Homo sapiens: one gene and its partners. The protein of the gene in region 2 purifies or fractionates together with the protein of the main gene of each other region. This does not show direct contact. Each region holds a gene or a part of one and is shown on either strand. Other genes may lie near its edges.

Region 1 (6,048 bases), about 59 Mb from region 2:
TTTGTTCACTACTATTCATTTCTAAGTAAATGGAAGAAATCAGTCTTTAAATAGAGACAGTGTTTTCTTAATAATCATGCCAGAATTTATCATCTAAACAAGTGGTTTTCTCATCCTAAAGGGTTCGGTCATCATTGTAAAGGAGCTGCCATAGCTAACACGTAAGCACTGTCCTCTCAGTCTGATTCAGCTTGAGTAACCTAAATGATGGCCCACTTCATCTTGACAGGATGGATGGGGCTTATTCATGTATTCATTTAAATATTTACTGAGGACCTACCATGTGCCAAACACTAGAAAAACAGTGTTATGAACCATGGCCTCTGCCCTCAAAGAGTTTATAATCTTGGGTTGAATGTGAGTTTGGACACAGGGAAACAAGTGAAATACATAAATGAATAAGTATCCGTGTTAATCTGTTTTTGCATTGCCATAAAGGAATACCTAAGGCTGCATAATTCATAAAGAAAAGAGGTTTTATTTTGGCTCACAGTTCTGCAAGCCGTACATAAGGCACAGTGCCAGCATCTGCTTCTGGTGAGAGAGGGCCCCAGGAAGCTTACAGTCATGGCGGAAGGTGAAGGGGGAGTCCATGTAAAAGAGGGAGCAAGGGAGGGGTAGGAGATGCCACACGCTTTGAAACAACCAGATCTCATGTAAACTCATAGAGCAAGAGCTCACTCATTACCATGGGGAGTGTACTAAGCCATTCATGAGGGATCCATCCATATGACTCAAATTCTTCCCATCAGGCCCCACCTCTAGCATGGGGAATCACATTTCAACCTGAGATTTGGAAGGGACAAACGTCAAAACTGTATCAGTATCCCTGTGACAAGTGAACAAAACATATGGAGAAGGTCTCCTTTAGGTTGGAAGAACAGAAAAGTCGCCAGGAGGAGGTGATATTTAAGCTGATTAACTTAGAGAAGCTTAAAGTCCATTCTTGTCTCTGTACCCTGAACCAAACTCACTATTAAGCCACTCTGGGCATTTGAGAACTACGCTTACTGAATACTTTCAAATAAAAACAGAATATATTTAGTATTTATTTTTCTCCTAAAGAAGATAAATAATGCAAAATTATTCCTAGGCATTTTGGTTAAAAAAGTTGTAGTCTAGTGAATAAATATAATTTATGATTTAAAAAAAGGACTACTATAAACTATCAACATTAGCATCTATCAGACTGCCTAATATTTCTAAAATGGTTCGAAAAATAATAGAATCATTAGAATAATTATGGAACATCCCAAGATTTTGAAGAGTGATATTCATTTGGATATATAAATTGTTCAGTAAACACTCATTAAATCCTCACCACCTGCCAGACACAGTGCCAAGTTCCAAGAATACAAATATAAATAAAACATGATGCTTAACCTTTTCCATTGTCAAATATTTGCTGAACACCTATGATGTGCTTACTACTCCCTCAAGGAGGTCGTTGCATTGCTTTTTAATTGTTGTTGCTGTTTTGTTTCCTTACTTTATTACCAAACATATGATCAAGTGATCCAGAGAGCACAATGATGGGCATGGTTTAAAAAAGAAAGAAAAAAAGTGTATATTAAATTAAAAGCCCACTATGAAACATGTCGAATCCACTGCATGTCTTAAGTCTGTCTACGAAGCAAGGAAAGCACATTTTTATGGCTCGCTCTAATTTTATCCTCCCCCACAAACCCCTTGCTCAGCATGACTGAATGGTGAAGGCTTAAATATCACCTTTTCTCTTACAAACTGAATGAACTTTCTGCAGTCCTGTCTGAACTTTAGTTCCAATTCAAGATAATTATAATCTCTGGACCCCTAGTACTTACAATTCCAATCCTTGCCTGAACTTCCACTGAAAGACATACACACCCATTTTAAAACCAGGAGCAATACCAAACCCTCAATGCTTTATATTTCATTGCAATTTCACAATTGATTTTCTAAAAACATTAGAGAAAATGAGTCTCAAGAACTTACTGTGCATCCATCATGTAAATTACCCAAACATGTTACATATTCATTGTTTATTGAGTCCCATAAACAATACAGAAGACTTCCTACAAGAACACACACTTCATGTTGTTTATTCCAGTGCTAGTTTGTTTTAACTTAAAATGATAATACCAAGGCACTGTCAGCTTACTGAACATGCAACCTTGTCCCAATCACTCTGTTTCAAATCTTTCCAAGAGTAATCTAGTTTGGGCAGGATTCCTGTGTTTTCCTGTGTGATTATCTCCTTTATATACCTCTGATGAAGCGATACAGAAGTAAATACAATTGAGAATAGAATGTACAAAAGCAAGCCTGTTTTCCCTGACCTAATCTTATATATGAAAAGGAACCTGACTGAATACAATTCTCTGTCAATAGCAGCTGATTGTTTACGACACAGTACCCCAAAAATTTCATCATAAATTAAGTTTAAAGTTGATTTTTAAAAAGAAAAAAAATAAAACAGAAGCCTAGGTTTCCTCCCACCCCAGTTCTCTGGCACTCAGCAAAAAGTAACACATCCTGCTCTATTGATAAGACCACAAATGAACAGTAGAGCTACATAATGTACAGTTCTAACTGGCCAGCTTCTAAAAAAAAATGAAGGATTCCTTCCAACTCCCATTAATGCACTTGATACAAAGAGAACATGTTTCAGCAACAAATACATTTAGGACTTGATGTTTTACAGAATCTACTGAAGGCTCTGGCCATAGGGGGAAAAAAAAATTTCCAGGATATTAAATGTTCTGACTCACCATCTAACAGAAGTACAAGCAAAATGCAAATGCAAATTGAATGTATACATATTTATGACTTTACCAGCTGCATGACAAGGCTACCTTTGGCTTCTGGCTTTATATATCAGGAAGAGAAGTTGAGAATACCAGCATACATTTGTGTTTCTTTTCCTTTCTTTTCTGAGACAAGGCCTTGCTGTGTCACCCAGGCTAGAGTACAGTGGTGCGATCATAGCTCACTGCAACCTTGAACTCCTAGGCTCCAGTGATCCTCTCACTTCAGCCTCCCAAGTAGCTGGGACCACAGGCACGTGCCACCATACCCAGCTAATTTTTTATTTTTGCATAGATGGGGTCTTGCTATGTTGCCCAGGCTGGTCTCAAACTCCTGGGCTCAAGTGATTCGCCCACCTCGGCCTCCCATGGGATTACAGGTCTTTGGTTTCTATTTGAACAGTTTCCTCTCTCCCAGCACTGATTGGAGCAAAGTATTATTTCTGAGTCTGGTGATGCACATAAGCCAGAAGAATCATAGTGAATAGATAAAAACAAACATTTTGGCCGAGCACAGGGTCTCACACCTGTAATCCCAGCACTGTGGGAAGCCGATGCCTGTGGATTGCTTGAATCCACGAGTTACAGACCAGCCTAGGCAACATGGTGCAACCCTGTCTCTGCCAAAAATACAAAAATTAGCCAGGCATGGTAGTGCGTGCCTGTTGTTGCAGCTACTCAGGAAGTTGAGGTGGGAGGATTACCTGAGCCTGGGGAGGTTGAGGCTGGAGTTGGGCCACTGCACTCCAGCCTGGGAAACAGAATGAGACCTTGACTCAAAAAACAAAAAAAAAGTAAAGAGAAAAAAACATGTTATTTTTAATGGCATCTGCTTGGGCAAGAAAACTTAAACATATAAATGCTAAACCATTTTCAAATGTACTAACTCTCTAATAATGATAGTAAACAGAAGTTTTCTGTTAATCTCTATGATTTCTAAAAGTCAAAACTGTACCTTCACCATAGAACTCCTGGGACAAACTCAAATATGAACCTTCTTAAGAATTCCACATTGATCTTGGTCCTCCTGCTATCATCTTTGTGACCATAAGTAAGTCAATTCACCTAAGTTTTAGTTTTCTTACCCATAAACGGTACTTCTAAACTAATTAATATTTAAATTCTTTATCAGAAGGAAACATACATCAATCCCCAATGTAAATTGCAGATCCATTAATAATATTTAAGATCACTATATTCTTTCTTATCATTCTTCCAAACATAAAAACACTACTTGTCTGTATATAAAGAGGAGGAGTAGAAAGAGAAGATTGTTAAAAGGAACAGAAACTAGGTTGGTTTTGTTAACTAGGTTCCCCCTCTGAAACCACGAGACAGTATTAGCATCTCCTGAAATTTATTCAATACCCTGTTTTAAAAACAGAATGGTTGGTTTCCCCATGTCAAGACATACCCTTTCATAAAATGGGACAAGTCAATTTCTAGGAATGTATCTTTCAGCAGCTGTAATACTAACAACTAAAGGGGCGGGGGGGCGGCAAACAAAAGAGCATAACATAGATGACATGAGTCTACTGTCTAGGGAGAAAGAAAAGCTCTTCCCTATATGATGCCTTCAGAAAAGAGAGCAACAATGGGCTCTGTACCCGCCAGCTTCAGGAGGCACATGCCTGTAGGCAAATTATCTTATGTGTTGGGAATTTACATGGTAAGATGCTTTCTATGTTTTACAGCATATGTTTTCCTTATGAATGACTTCATTCACCCCCTTCATTAATTCAACAGCTATTTACTGAGCACTTACTTTATGCAAACCATAAAGCTAAAAAAAAAAAGTTATGAGCTTACAATTAGAATATTCAAGTAAGCCCTGACATGTACCTTACAGTACTTTAACCCCTCAGAATATTTTCAAGTCAAACAGTAAACTAAACAATATACTGTAGATGTTAAGCTAAAACGCACTTGTTAAGTTTCATTCCTTTGATGAAGTGGCATGTAGTAAAGGGGGGAAGGGATAAACTAAAGGTGAAAGAGTAATTAGCTAGGTCTCTTAGGTGATGTGGGGTACAAAGGTCTCCTTCCTCTAGAGAAAATGATAACATTGGATTACAAACACATTGGTAAACATCACAAAATGCTAAAGTTGGAAAGAAAAAACATAATTTCATACAAACGTTTTGTTTTATATGTGAGACACTTGAGACTTGGAAGTGATATGATGGCCCAGGTCATACGGCCAAATGTAGTCCCAGAACTAGAACCCAGGTCACTGGGGGCATGCTTAACAGTCCTTTGTGTATTGCAGTTTCCATGATGTGTCCTCATTGCTATCAGAACTGAAATGATGGCAGAATACACAAAGCAATGGACTGGACATCAGAAGATCCAAGTTCTAGTCTTGCAAATGCCACTAAATGAGATGTAAATCCATGGAAAACTCCCACTGCTTGTCTAAACCTCAGTTTCCTCATCTGTAAAATGTAAACAGTAATTTACAGTGAGACTATGCAGACCACAATAAATGCAGAAGAACTCTGCCATTTAAAAAACCACCTTATATAAGTACAGAGCAGGCACCTGGTTATGACAGAAAACCTAACTGTGATTCTAATACCAGCACTTGTTACCTTGATAAATCTCTGAATCTGTGAGCCTCATGTTCCTTCTGTGTTTACATGGTAAAAAGTCTTTGCCCTGCCTCCCTCAGAAATGTTTGGAATTAGGTGAGAACACTCAAAAGAATTTACAAATTGCAAGACACTGATGCAAATGTAAGGTGTTATTATTAAATCTCTCTAGTCTTAACGTGGACAAAAATGTAATGTGGTTCTATCATTTAGTGCTTCACAGTTTTCCTTCTCAGGTAAGATGTCATCATACATCAGTCTCAAACTCACCAGCTTTCTCATCAGTCCTCATAAGTCTCTGCCCACAGGACCATATCAGAACCACCGTTTCCCTCCGCTCAGAGATCACACATGAAACTCACTCAACCTCCCACTGGTTTACACTTGGCCGATTAAGGTTTTTTCCCAGCGTCTCCTTTCAGCTGGGAATGCTCTAGCAAAGCTTCCATGAACACTACCCTACTTCATCACATTAGAGTCCTAATGAAACCCATCCTTACTTCATCACATTAGAGTCCTAATGAAACCAATCCTTTCGCCTTTCTCCACTCCAACAGCTGCAGAACGCTTCAGTCTCTTCGCAGAACAGGGGAGAAGTCTCTGGCTGAATGTGCTTCATTAGAGGGACAAAAGGGGTTCCCCAAACCGAGACTCAGAAGTACTGACACAGA
Region 2 (4,252 bases):
TAGCCCCAGCTACTCAGGAGGCTGAGGCAGAGGAATCTCTTGAACCTAGGAGGCGGAGGTTGCAGTTAGCTAAGACCGCGCTACTGCACTCCAGCCTGGGCGACAGAGCAAGACTCTGTCTCAGAAAAAAAGAAAAAAAAAATTAGCTGGGCATGGTGACGCCTGCCTATAATCCCAGCTACTTGGGAGGCTGAGGCATGAGAATCACTTGAACCCAGAGGCAGAGGTTGCAGTGAGCCGAGATTGCGCCATTGCACTCCAGCGTGGGCCACAGAGGGAGATTCTGTCTTAAAACAAACAAACAAAACCCTCGAACCTTGGTGCCTCACACACACACCCATACTCACAGTACCTCTCTGGGTCCCCACAGGGCCCTGCCTCTCAGCCTGCTTTCCCCTCTTCACTCCAGCCACTCTGGCCTTTCACTTCCTGGACTCACCAAGGCCCTTTGCACGTCCTACTCGCTTGGTCCCATAGACACTCATCCGGCACAGGCTTGTGCCAGGCACTCAGCCAGGAGGCAGGAATGACATGGCCCCGCTTTCATGGCATTCCCACTCCAGGGGGAGACGTGATAAACAATAAACAAGACAGTCTCTGACAGTGTTAGGGTGGTAAAGAAAATAAAGGTGATGTGATCAGGAGTGGGGGGAGGGGAGCGCTCTGTTGGAGTCTGGCAAGGTGACGAAAGAACGAGGCGAGTAGCAGTCTGGGGTCAAGAGTTTCAAGCAGAGGGAATAGCAAAATGCAGAGGCTTGAATGGGAGAGTTTGGCGGCTAAGGAACAGGAGGGGCCGGGCGGCTCAGTGGTTAAGTGTAGGGTGAGTGGTTTGAGATGGGCCTGGGGTCAGGGTGAGGGGTTTGGGTTTTGTTCCATTGCCATGGGAGCCACTGGAGGCTTTAAGCACGAGAGTGACATCATCCAAGTTATGCTTTTAAAGATCACGCGGGCAGCTGAGCCCCTCCCTCTCGCTCACCACTAAATCCCCAGGGCCTAGCACTGCTGGCCCACAGTGGGTGTTCAATATCTATGTGTTCAATGAATGGATGTCCCCGACTTTGCTGTGTGACCTAGAGGTAGTGACTTCTTTCTCTAGATCTCTCAGTTTTTTCACCCAAAAGACGGGCAATGGGGATTTCACGCCGGAATGGGTGGGTGGCACAGGATTTAGGTTACTCGCCTCCCCAGGCGGCCCTAGCGACCCGAGTCCCCACGCCGAGGGCGGAAAATGGGGGTGCTCCCTTCGAGGGACCCCAGCCAATGTCCGGCGGCCCCGCCCCAGCCGGACCGAGGTCTGAAGGATGCTGCAGCCGTGGGGGCGGGACCCGCAGGCGATCGCCAGCGCCTCCCGCGTGGATTGGATGCAGCCGCAGTCGGCGCCATGCTATTGGTCGGCCGCGAGGTAGGGGCGGGGCCTGATTCCTGCAGCGGGGCGGCGGGGAATGCGGCCAAAGCCCGGGAAGCTGCTGCGGGGGCGATGGCTGCGCCGAGCCCGGGGCCCCGCGAGGTAGGTGCGGACCCGAGAGAGGACAGGAGAGGGAAGGGTTGGTGGGCAGGGGCCGGGCCTCCCCTCGGCGAGCGGCGCGGACACGCCCCCATCCAAGCCTGGGAGGGGCCCTGCAGCCGGCGAAGACCAGGACACGCCCCACACGGGGCGCCAGGTATCCCGAGGGGCGGCCTGGCGGATATCCCTCAACACTTCCTCAGCTTTCTCATTGGGAAAATGGAGAGGATGCTAAAGCTCCTCCTTCAGGGAGCTGTTAGGAGGTCAAGCTCTCATCCAGTGCGGGGCACGCGGTGGATGCCCACTACTGGTGGGTCAGCGGCTATGAAAAGCATCGTGCTGGCCCCTCCGTGCTGGCCTGGAGGCGCTCAGCATAGGCGAATGGAATAGATGTGACTGAATCACCGGCATCACAGCTCCTACTATCAAGGGCTCCCGTGCAAGGAGCTCAAACTCAAAAGTAACAAGAGTTCATACCTACCACGAAGAAGCTGTTCTAGTTTTCACGTTGCAGATGAAAAAATGAGGCACAGAAAGGTTAGGTGACTTACCTAAGGTCACAAGGTTGGTGAGAGACGGTCCATCTAAGGCCAGGTTTGACTGCAGAGTGCACGCCCTATCTACTGATAATCATAACCATTGCTCTATTCGGGTGCTGACTGCGTGCCAGGCACTGTGTGGCCCCTCTGGGTACCAGCATCATCTCTATTTTACAGCTGAAGAAATTGAGGCAGAGAGAGATGAGGGGAAGTCTCACAAGTAGTGGAAGTGGGACTTGAACCCTGATCTTTTTCCTCTGTGACGCTGCCACAGGCTGTGTCCTGTGCCTCCTCCCACCAGGTCCTGGCCCCCTCCCCTGAGGCTGGATGCAGAGCAGTCACCTCCAGCCGGCGGGGGCTTCTCTGGCGCCTCCGAGACAAGCAGTCTCGCCTGGGCCTGTTTGAGATCAGCCCGGGGCATGAACTGCATGGGATGACGTGCATGATGCAGGCAGGGCTGTGGGCTGCCACCCAGGTCTCCATGGACCACCCACCCACGGTGAGTGGCCCATCTGTCCCACGAATCTCCACACCAGCAATGGCAAGACTTGGCTGATGCCCTGTCTGGCTGAAACTGCAGGTGTGGGGATCAGAGAGGGATATCAAGGGGAGGAAGGCAGAGAGGGAGGAACATTGTGGTGTGGGAGCTGGAACGTCTGGGGTGCGTTGGGGGTGTGAGGAACCCCCTGACTCAGGTGGTTGCTGTGTGACTCTAGGTGGGTCTCTGCCTCTCTCTGGGCCTCAGTGTCCCCATCTGTATAATGGGGGGAGATTATACTCCTTGGTTTCTGAGGCCCTCCCAGCCCTGCCAGGGTATATGGTTGAAAAGGGACCCCCACCCCCACCCTGCTGGCCTAGCCCATCCTCTCTGGAGCTCAGGCTGAGGCAGGGCTGGCTCAGCAGAAAGGTGGCCCAACTGCAAGCTCAGCAGCTGGGCGGGCCTGGGTGAGCATGTGTGTGGTGTTCGTGTGTGTGCATGTGTGCGCAGTGGGACCACATTCCACAGACCACATCCGGGCACAGGGACCTGGAGATCCAGGGAAAGTGTAGAGACTCGAGGGAGTTCTCTAAATCACAAACTGACCTCATCACCTGCTGAAAAGCTTCCATGGCTCCCCAATACTCAGCATGACCTCCAGATCCAGCTGCATCCAGCCTTGTTCACACTCCATCCCTCCCTCACTGGCTTCAGCCACTTGGGCCCTCCTTCCCTTGCCGGCAGCCACCAGTGCTGTTTCTACTGGTGCGAGCACCCTGCTCCTCCTCTCCACTACCCTTTAGATTTCAGCTTAGAGGTCTCCACCCCCAGGAAGGCTTCTCTGATTTTGCCCCTCCCAGGTTGCATCAGGCAGGTCCCTTGGCTTCAGGGCCACCCCCTTGTACTGGACAGAATCTGGCTTCACTTGGCCAGCCTGTGAGTCTGGGAACGTGCCTGGCTTGAACTCATGGCCTGGTGCTGGTGATCCAGAGTGGATGAGATACACTCAGGCCTTGCCGTGGGTCACTCTTGTCCCCCTGGCATCCCTGGGAGGTGAGCAATGCATCTGCCCAACTCAGGCACTCTCAGAAACTCCGGTCCCGGTTTGCTGAAGGAATCCAATTGGAGGAGGTGGGGGACGGGCCAGGTGCAGGACATCTGGAGATCCTGGGGCAGGCAGCAGGGGACTGAGGGTTGCCCTGAGCTCCTCTACCTCTCCCTGCAGGGGCCGCCCTCCCGGGACGATTTCTCGGAGGTCCTAACCCAGGTTCACGAGGTAGGAGGCCCAGACTCCCGTGTGGGAGGGACGTGTGCTGGTCTTGCTCTCTCCTCTGCAGTTTTCCCATCTGTGCAGTGGGAGTGAAGGCTTGTCCCTGAGACTTGAGCCTTGCAGGAAGGGTGTGGTCACCCTGACCCTCCTGTCCCAGGACCAACTGCACACACCCGGGCCCACGCAGACACTCCAGAGGAGGCTCTTCCTCCCCTGCAGGGCTTCGAGCTGGGCACGCTGGCCGGCCCCGCCTTTGCCTGGCTGCGCCGCTCCCTGGGCCTGGCGGAGGAGGACTATCAGGCTGCCCTGGGCCCCGGCGGCCCCTACCTGCAGTTCCTCAGCACCTCCAAGAGCAAGGCCAGCTTCTTCCTGTCGTGAGCTTGCGGCAGGGGTGGGGCAGGGGTGGGAGTGGTACCCCTGGCTGGGAGGGCAGAATTCCCAGTGGCGGGGAAGGCCCCCTG
Region 3 (4,019 bases), on a different chromosome or scaffold from region 2:
GAAACAGAAGAGGGCAGGGTACTGGGAAATATTTTATAGTATTCAAGAAGCTAAATATGGTTAATTAAAACAGTGTGCTTCTAAATCTAGTAGCTTCTCAGCCTCTTCTTTCCAAATTCTAAATTGATTCCAAAGTGAAAATTAGAGAAGCAGTATGAGATTTAAAAGGAGAGTCCTTTGTTGTTGTCTTCTAATTCTTTTTCTCTCTGCTTCCATTTTTTTTCTCCTGTTAGTACAACCTTGGAAAAGCTTGAAGTTGCAGAGTCAGAGTTCACCCATGTGAGTATCTGGGATGTGTGGGAGGTGAACGTTTTGCAAGGTATAAAGAGGATCACTGATGGCCTGGAGCAGGAAGTTAATTGTCAAGATTAGAGGATCTGGGTACCTCCTAAATCTTGTTTTTTATTTTTTATTATTTTTTTATTTTGTACTTATTTATTTATTTATTTATTTATTTTTGAGATGGCGTCTCACTCTGTTGCCCAGGCTGGAGTGCAGTGGTGCAATCTCAGCTCACCTGCAACCTCTGCCTCCTGGGTTCAAGCAGTTCTCCTGTCTCAGCCTCTGGAGTAGCTGGGACTACAGGTGCGTGCCACCACGCCCGGCTAATTTTTTATTTTTTAGTAGGCGCAGGGTTTCATCATATTGGACAGGCTGGTCTTGAACTCCTGACGTCGTGATCTGCCCACCTTGGCCTCTCAAAGTGCTGGGATTACAGCCGTGAGCCATTGCACCCAGCCATCGTGTTTGTGTTTTTGAGACGGAGTCTTGCTCTGTCACCCAGGCTGGAGTGCAGTGGCGCGATCTCGGCTCACTGCAAGCTACGCCTCCCAGGTTCACGCCATTCTGCTGCCTCAGCCCCTTGAGTAGTTGGGACTACAGGCGCCCACCACCATGCCCGGCTAATTTTTTGTATTTTTAGTAGAGCAGGGTTTCACCGTGTTAGCCAGGATGGCCTCGATCTCCTGACCTCGTGATCCACCTGCCTGGGCCTCCCAAAGTGCTGGGATTACAGGTGTGAGCCACCATGCGCGGCCGCCATCTTGTTTTTTAAAAAATATTTTTGGTACCTCATACTTGGAGGCTGAGGCTGAAATAGAAATTTCTTAACGCTTGAATTCCATTTCTGCTTAATCTCATACTCCACATCCTTAACTTTACACTCTCCCTTTTCAGTAAGCGCAAAGCCTCAGAAGACCTGGAACAAGATTCTGCCATCTCTGTGATCCCAAGATGTCAGCCCTTGCCCCAGCAATGCTGAATTTTCTTCTACTTGGTCATCAAAAAAGGAGTGTAATAGAAGTGAGGGGAGCTGCTCCTCCATCTTCTTCCTGAAGAAGAACCTTCTCTCCTTCCTCTTCCTCATGAATGGGCCTTAGTGCCTCAGAGAGTTGAGGACCGCAGCATCCCCTCCACTCCAGAGTTGGGTGGTATGGATTTTCAACTGGCCAACCCTTTGCCTCCACTATTGAATTTTTTTCAGACCCCCATTCTTCATGCTGGAAATGGGATTGCTGGACTTGGCAGCTTTCTTTCCCCTCGTCTTTGACTAGGAACCGGACTCTTAATTTCCTCAGGACAGACTAGCTGGCACATTATCCCTACCTTAGTTCTTTCTCTCTGACTCCTGGAAGAATACTCCTGTAATCTCTGTAAAGGTTTTTGGGGGATAAGGGTGTTTAACCACCTCCCAGCTTTCTTCTTCTTTTTTTTTTTCTGAAAAAAGGAAAAAGCACACAGCACACAATTTCAAGCCATTTTCAGATCAGAACTCCAGAAGTGTTGACAAGATGCCTATTCGTAGAGTTCCCTCAGAAGAGCCATGGTGTTTATGAAGAGAAGAGTAGTGATTGCTCTGCCAGAAGCAGCTCCTCTTTAAACTCCTCCTCTCTTGATGAATTTCTTAAGGCTGAAGGAATGAAGAGAGTGGGACATGGGGTAATCTTTATCCCTTTTGTTAAAACAGGAGGCAGCCATGGGCTGGGAGATCATAGCCCTTCCTAGGCAGAATCCTGTTCACTGCCAGGCTATAGTAATTATTACTATTTTGCAATTTGAAATATATTCTGGTTGTTTTTCTAAATGTGAAGACTTACCAAATGAATTTTAGATCATTCTCCAGAGGAGATTTTTTTTGCTCTTCTCATCTTTTCCAACAGTGTTCTCCTGTTTGTGGAGCTAAGGTAAAGAGGGGACACTTCTGTCTGTTTAACAGACAGTCCATATCTGTGAGGCCAGCAAATATTTTCTTAAACTCATGGGGAGACAGCAGATTCTTGCCTTGGTGAGGTCATTGCTGTGCCATATGTCCTACCCCCCTGTCTTCATGCAGGGAAGTTGGAAATGGGGGCTACATATGCCCTCTCCTCCCCGTCTACAAGAGTTGTGGTTTTCCATCTGATCCTTCCACTCTTGTCAGGGGAAGAAGGGGGCCTGGTATCTCAGGCAGATTGTTGAATTCCTGTTCTATCCCTTCTCTATCCCACCCTGCCTTGATAATATGTTAGCCCATACCCCAAATAACTGTCTATATTAGACACCCCCAGCCAGTTTCTGGCTGCCTGTCTTTGCTGCCATGTTTTTTACAAGAAGGAAAGAATTCTTGCTATTTTTTTTTCATAATTTACTATTTATGATGTATTTAAGTGTTTTATTAAGGACAGAGTTCTGTTAGGGGTGGGAGGGAATATTTGAGGGAGGGCTGGGTCTTAGGGAAAGGAATGGGGAAGCAACATTTTTATTAAGTGTTACTATTTGCCTCTACTTTGTATTGTTCAGAAATGGCAAATACAATATAAAAGTGATATATGGTTTTAATGTAATAAACTTTAATGAGTTATTTAGACCTCTTATTTTTTCTGATTCTTTTTCATATACCATCTGCTCACCCTCCTACTCCACCACCCAGGCTCAGTTTTGTTCATGTTGCCCTAAACAAAGGCTGCATACTTTCCAGCTTGCAACACTCCAGCTTCACTCTTAAGGCTTTATGTCCTTATATCCTCTTCCTCAGCAACCCCATTATCTTCACGAGGAAAAGCAGTGAATGAATATGAGGGGAGTTACTGTAGGTCTCTTGCCTAGGTTGCAACCCAATTTAACAGGGATTTGAGGTTCAAAACTCACTTTACTCAGTTAAGTGAGGAAAGGAGAGGGACAGTGGGAAAAGTAAGTTTGAGGTTAGCTGGCCCTAGTGATTCCCTCCCTTTCGTTCTCTTGACCTGGCCCTAGGGCGTCACTCTTAGAAGATCATAGAGATTGCTTTCTTTAGCTGTTTTCTTTTGTGAGGTTGAGCTAAGGCTCCTTTGATAGGAAACTAGACAAAAAAGTAGGGGCGGGCCAGGCGCGGTGGCTCACACCTGTAATCCCAGCACTTTGGGAGGTGGAGGCAGGTGGATCACCTGAGGTCAGGAGTTCGAGACCAGCCCAGCCAACATGGCAAAACCCCGTTTATTGAAAATTAGCAGGGGATGGTGGCATGCGCCTGTAGTCCCAGCTACTTTGGAGGTCAAGGCTGGAGAATTGCTTGAACCTGGGAAGCAGAGGTTGCAGTGAGCGAAGATTGCGCCAGTGCACTCCAGCCTAGGCGACTGAGACTGTCTAAAAAAAAAAAAAAAAAAAAGGAGCGGTGAGGTTCATTCTGAGGCATGAAGATAGGGAACCTTTGGAGAGAAGCAGTTAAGCAAACAGCTGCTTTTCATACCACTATTCCCTATCTTGTTAAGGGCACTCCAAATATTTATATAGCAGCTAATGAGCAATGCATGGAGTAGATGGAGATCAAAGAAATAATTGTCCTTCAAAAGTTTCTAGTTTCCAGGAGGAACACAAATCACAAAAACAATATGTTATATGTGAGACAGCTACTTAAGCTCTCTGAAGGTGGCACAGAACATAAAAGGGGGAAAAATTAGCAGTTACGTGCGAAAGAAGTGTTAAGAGAATGTTTCACTTCAGCACAAGGACCTAGATGCATGAGAATGGTCTGTTTTTGAGAACAAGGAAGAGATCATGATGAG
Region 4 (4,941 bases), on a different chromosome or scaffold from region 2:
GCGGGGGATCTGAGGGAGACCGAGTTCGCTAAATATTATAAATAGGTCTTGCCGTCCTCCTGCCCCCGCCCCTCGGCACAGTCAGTGGAGCACGTCAGCCTCGGTTTACAGTTCTCTGAAAAGGAACCAAAAAACACAACCAACACCAAGTATATCTCCAAAAGGGCCTTGGAGACAACACAAGAATGGAAATGAAATGGTATCCACAGAGGTTTGCACATTTCTCCTGCAAAGGCGCGTCGGCCGGGCACTGGTGTCCCGTGTCACTCAGCGGAGGGAGGCTGCCCTGGACGCGGTGCCGCCCGCCCGGGGCCACACCTGCTGCTCCGAGTCACCCCACAGGCTCTTGGCGTCTCTGGTGCCAGGGCTCTGGGCAGGGCGACTCGAGGACTCCCTGGGAGGACTGGTGTGGCCTCTGGGGGTTGGGCCTTTGAGATGACAATGCCCCTGTCCCTGCTGGCCATCCAGGTCCCAGACACCCCTTCTGACCTCTGCCCCTGCCTCCCCGGGGGGTGCCTGCTGGGTGTCCTTCGGAGGGACAGGGCGGGGGCTGATGGGTGGATGCCCGGTGCCAGCAGATGAGCACCAGGCTGTGAACTGAGGCCAAGGTCGCTTCCCAGGGCTGGACAGACCCTCTGAGCACGCAGGGAGGACCCCACGTGGGCTTGTCCTGATGGATGCTGGGAGCCACGCGGCTGGCCGGTTCCCGAGGAGGGTCGGCCCCTCTCCTGGGCAGAGTGGAGGGGCTGCTCTCGTGGAGTGTGTGTCCTCGCTGGGGACCTCGGGGATGGGTCCGGCTTCTCCACAGCAGGGGCCTTCCGGGCGCAGCGTGTGGGCTGTGCAGGAGGCCGACGGGACGTGAACAGCGGGTGGCGTGGCGTCATACGGAGGTTGTAACAGACAAAACACAGAGCCCTGCCTGGGAGGTTCTCCGGCCGTCTCAGACCCCACACCAGGCTCTGCCAGGTCTGGAGAGGAATTCTTCCCAAAGGTGCAGCTTCCACTCCAGCTCCTCACATCCTGGGCACATCTTGGAAGTGGGGGATTCCCACAGCCATCACCAATAAGCCCCTCTCAGGGGTCCTGGGGAAGGGCAGGGTGGGTGACTCTGCCGAGCTCTGGCCTCCAACCAGCACCCTCTGAGCGCAGCGGGCCCAGGAAGCTGCCCCAGGGCAGTCTGGGCTGAGTCCCACCACTGGGAGCGCTGCCCTCTTGGAGGGTGATGAGTCGGAAACAAAGTCTTCTCTCCCCTCCTCGGAGACATCACATCACTTAAACAAGAAAGAGGCGGCGGACATCCACACCAGTCCTGAAGGAGACTCCTGTGGAGCCGGGCCTGGCCCCCTAGGCCATGTCTCCACGTGGAGGGGGCGGGGAGCCTGACCTTCCGCCCTGAGCTGGTCTCCTGTGGCCCAAGGCCCGGCCTCCCGCTCTGTCCTGCCATGGAGAAAACGTCTCCGTTGCCTGGGCCCTCCATGCCAGTTGCTGAGTGGCCTACGTTGGAAGAGAAGGACAAGTCCCCAGCCCTGAGCTCCGCCAGCGTGGGTGGCAGCCTGGGGAAGAGGAGGCCTGGCCCTCCAGCTGTGGTGGGTCTGGATTGGAGGCGCCAGAGGTTTTTGCTCGAGGGGCACCTGGGAGGTGGGCGTCAGGGCCCCACTGCGGCGGGAACATAGCTGCTGAGTGGCCGCAGTGCTTGGCAGGGCGAGGGCTGTCCCCACAGTCGATGTTCAGGCCAGATGTCCTGCACTGAGGCCCCCAAACCCAAGCTGAGGGCAGGAGGGTCCGCTTCCCACGTGGATGGAGGCAGAGTTGCTCGGGACCCCAGCCGTCCCCTCTGCAGGCCGATGGGGCCCCCGGGGCTCAGGTCCCCAGAGGCCACCGCGAACAGCCTGGCTTCTTCCTCAGGACACAGGCAGGCACAGCAGAGAACCAAAGAGTGCAGTGGGCAGGGGCTCTTCTCCCTCTGGTTGGTTTGTTTGTGTCTTTTTTGTTCTTTTCCTAAAACGGCACACACGTGCTTCCGTCTCTGTGCCAAATAAGGACTCAAATGCGATTGGCCGCTCGGGAGGGTGGGTCTCACAGGGGCAGGCTGCCGACCGGGGTGCCGGGGCCCTGGGAGGCTTGTCGGGGAGGGGCCCGGCCGTCGGCATCCGTGCAGGGGGAGGACGAGGTCCGGTGGGGCGGCGAGGCGGGCATCTCCCGAGCTCTGGGCCTCAGCGGGGTGGGCAGCGCCTTCGGGGGCAGCCGGAGCAGAAGTGGAGCTCGGCTCTGGGTCGGGGGCTGCATAGAAATTACTGCAAGAGCAAGAGGACAGGTGAAGGTGGGCGGGGCGAGGGCCCACCCCAGGCCCCCTGCCAGGGACTGGCTTCCTTGGGCCAACACAGGCCCTGAGACACTTAGCCCACGGCCACCTCAGAGCCAGAGAGCCCAGGGTGGAGCTCTGGGCCACCTGTGCCCTCCCGCCCCGGGCCTCAGTCCCTGCCTATCCCAGTAGCTGGGGACCACGCTCAGTAGAACCTTGGAGCCCACGGGACCGGCGGGTGCACCTGGGCTGCACTTACTGTGTCGCTCTCGCCGTCGGAGGCCGGGGGGGCCTGGGCGCTATAGTGGAGCGGGGAGTACACCCAGCTCCTCTCATCGGTGGGCTGGCAGGTGGGCGCGCGTGCAGGAGGGCGCGGAAGAGCAGGGTGCGAGGAGGTGCAAGAGAGGCAGAGGGAGGAAGGAAGAGACAGGAGAACATAAAAGAGGCGAATCCCCCATGGAAGACGAGGGGTGGCTCAGCCCAGCTGCCCTCTCTGACCCGGTGGACTTGCTCCCAACCTGGACGGGCCTGGGGCCTCAGCTCAGCTTGGCGGGGCGGGGCACGGCGGGCGGCAGAAAGCAGTTAGTTCAGTCGAGGCAGGGCCTGAGATAGCAGGTGACAGAGCCGGCGGAAGCGGGTGGGGGTCGCGACCTGGAGCACCGAGTGTTCCTCCTCCTCCTCCTCCTCCACAGCCCGGCCCCACCACAGCCCCCAATCCTGCCTGTGCCACGGGCACCAGCGCACAGGCTCCTGGAAGCTCTCTATGGGGGTCCTGGGAGGTCGGGGTGCCGGACCTACTTCCCAACCCAGAAGCCTTTTGGGACCTGAATATATGGCTGCCTGCGGGCAGGGCCAGTCCCCTCTGCCAGCACAGACGTGCTAGGAGAGACTGAGGCTCGGACCACCCACCCTGCAAGAGCCAGGAGACGCCTTCCTGAGCAGCAGGGCAGAGTGAGGGCCAAGTTCAGGGCTAGGCACAGGCAGGGCCGTGTGCAGGGACACGGACAGCTCTTCCCAGCTGTGCCTGCGTGAGGGGTCCCAGGTCTGGGTGGGATCTGGGGAGGGAGGGAGGGTGCGTTCCTCCAACACCTCCGTCCCGCCTCCTGAGGAGCCCCCACCCCCTCAAGCTCCCCCTGCTTCTCCTGCCCCTAGGCTGCTCTGCTTTCTCAGGGCTCCAGCCTGGCCGCCCTGTCTTCCTTGTTGTGTCCTCCTCTCTCTCGGGCCTCTGTCACCAACCCAGCCTTCAACGCCCCTCCCGGCACAGATGACCTGCGAATTTCCACCAGGCCTGGCCTCGGCCTGAAGTGCCAGGCCTGAATACACACCTGCCTGGCCACGTCCACCTGGCGGCCCTCGGCCCCTAAACTCGCCACAGTCACAACCCAGTCCATCACCCCAAGACCCACTGCTCGTCCTTCCAGTCAGGATGACGCTGCCCACCTGCTGCCCAGGCCAACCCATGCCTCTGCCAGCTCCCAGTTGCCCAGCCTGGGCCAGCAGGGGCCTCCCTTGTGCTCCAGGTGAGCCCAGACCTCACCTGCAGGAGCACTGCCTCTCCCTGCCTCGGGCTCTGCCTCCATGCTCCCTCTAAAGGGCCCACCTCTGTGCTCACTCCACCCTGCCCGATCCTACAGCTTCCACAAGACCCCTGTTCCCGGGCCCTGGGCACCGAGGGCAGCGCACTCCTGCCCTGCGAGGCCGCATCGCGGAGGACTGACTCCTGCACTGAGGGGCCAGGACCCCAGCGCAGGCCTTGCCTGTTCCTCCAGGGTAGCAAATGCAGCCTGGAATCCCTGACGTGGGAATGGCAGGTCAGGTCCACCCAACGTCCCTTGAGAGCCCGGCATGGGGAGCCTATGTGGGTGCTCAGTACTGATTTGGTGGCTGCACTGATGGATCCCATGGGGACTTGAAAATGTGGGGCCAAAACAGGGTCCCCACCTGAGCCCTGAAAGAACTGGCCCGCAGGGAGGAGGGTGGCAGCAGCCACCTCAGAGCCGCTCTCTGGGAGGGGCATCCCGGGCACACACAGCACGTGGGCAGGGATGACAGTATCCTTCTGCTACAGCATTAGAAACGGGGATACAGGCCAGGTGCAGGAGCTCACGCCTGTCATCCCAGCACTTTGGGAGGCCAAGGCAGGTGGATCACTTGAGGTCAGGAGTTCAAGACCAGCCTGGCCAATATGGCGAAACCCTATCTCTACTAAAAATACAAAGATTAAGGCCGGGCGTGGTGGCTCACGCCTGTAATCCCAGAACTTTGGGAGGCCGAGGTGGGCAGATACCTGAGGTCAGGAGTTCGAGACCAGCCTGGCCAACATGGTAAAACCCCATCTCTTACTAAAAATACAAAAAATTATTGGGGCATGGTGGCAGGAGCCTGTAATCCCAGCAACTCGGGAGGCTGAGGCAGAAGAATCGCTTGAACCCAGGCCAGAGGTTGCAGTGAGCTGAAATTGAGCCACTGCATTCCAGCCTGGGTGACAGAGTGAGACTCCATCTCAAAAAAAACAAACAAGGCTGGGCGCGGTGGCTTACGCCTGTAATCCCAGCACTTTGGGAGGCTGAGGCGGGCAGATCACGAGGTCAGGAGATTGAGACCATCCTGGTGAACACGGTGAAACCTCGTCTCTACTA

What was found.
Region 1: the proteins of PIP5KL1 (region 2) and PIP5K1B purify together in Homo sapiens (affinity purification with western blotting, with the first as the bait; one study listed by BioGRID). This does not show direct contact.
Region 3: the proteins of PIP5KL1 (region 2) and PIP5K1A purify together in Homo sapiens (affinity purification with western blotting, with the first as the bait; one study listed by BioGRID). This does not show direct contact.
Region 4: the proteins of PIP5KL1 (region 2) and PIP5K1C purify together in Homo sapiens (affinity purification with western blotting, with the first as the bait; one study listed by BioGRID). This does not show direct contact.

Annotation. Positions count from the first base shown.
Region 1 is NC_000009.12:68,706,776-68,712,823, reverse strand, and holds part of PIP5K1B (phosphatidylinositol 4-phosphate 5-kinase type-1 beta), read right to left. Parts: intron 1-6,048. UniProt on the Homo sapiens protein: Catalyzes the phosphorylation of phosphatidylinositol 4-phosphate (PtdIns(4)P/PI4P) to form phosphatidylinositol 4,5-bisphosphate (PtdIns(4,5)P2/PIP2), a lipid second messenger that regulates several cellular processes such as signal transduction, vesicle trafficking, actin cytoskeleton dynamics, cell adhesion, and cell motility.
Region 2 is NC_000009.12:127,927,978-127,932,229, reverse strand, and holds the start of PIP5KL1 (phosphatidylinositol 4-phosphate 5-kinase-like protein 1), read left to right. Parts: upstream 1-1,452; 5' UTR 1,453-1,477; coding exon 1,478-1,507; intron 1,508-2,344; coding exon 2,345-2,542; intron 2,543-3,746; coding exon 3,747-3,797; intron 3,798-4,010; coding exon 4,011-4,165; intron 4,166-4,252. UniProt on the Homo sapiens protein: May act as a scaffold to localize and regulate type I PI(4)P 5-kinases to specific compartments within the cell, where they generate PI(4,5)P2 for actin nucleation, signaling and scaffold protein recruitment and conversion to PI(3,4,5)P3.
Region 3 is NC_000001.11:151,246,687-151,250,705, forward strand, and holds the end of PIP5K1A (phosphatidylinositol 4-phosphate 5-kinase type-1 alpha), read left to right. Parts: intron 1-233; coding exon 234-279; intron 280-1,176; coding exon 1,177-1,179; coding exon of another isoform or gene 1,180-1,261; 3' UTR 1,262-2,845; downstream 2,846-4,019. UniProt on the Homo sapiens protein: Catalyzes the phosphorylation of phosphatidylinositol 4-phosphate (PtdIns(4)P/PI4P) to form phosphatidylinositol 4,5-bisphosphate (PtdIns(4,5)P2/PIP2), a lipid second messenger that regulates several cellular processes such as signal transduction, vesicle trafficking, actin cytoskeleton dynamics, cell adhesion, and cell motility.
Region 4 is NC_000019.10:3,630,876-3,635,816, forward strand, and holds part of PIP5K1C (phosphatidylinositol 4-phosphate 5-kinase type-1 gamma), read right to left. Parts: intron 2,906-4,941; coding exon of another isoform or gene 2,885-2,905; exon of another isoform or gene 2,821-2,884; intron 2,646-2,820; coding exon 2,562-2,645; intron 2,295-2,561; coding exon 2,292-2,294; 3' UTR 1-2,291. UniProt on the Homo sapiens protein: Catalyzes the phosphorylation of phosphatidylinositol 4-phosphate (PtdIns(4)P/PI4P) to form phosphatidylinositol 4,5-bisphosphate (PtdIns(4,5)P2/PIP2), a lipid second messenger that regulates several cellular processes such as signal transduction, vesicle trafficking, actin cytoskeleton dynamics, cell adhesion, and cell motility.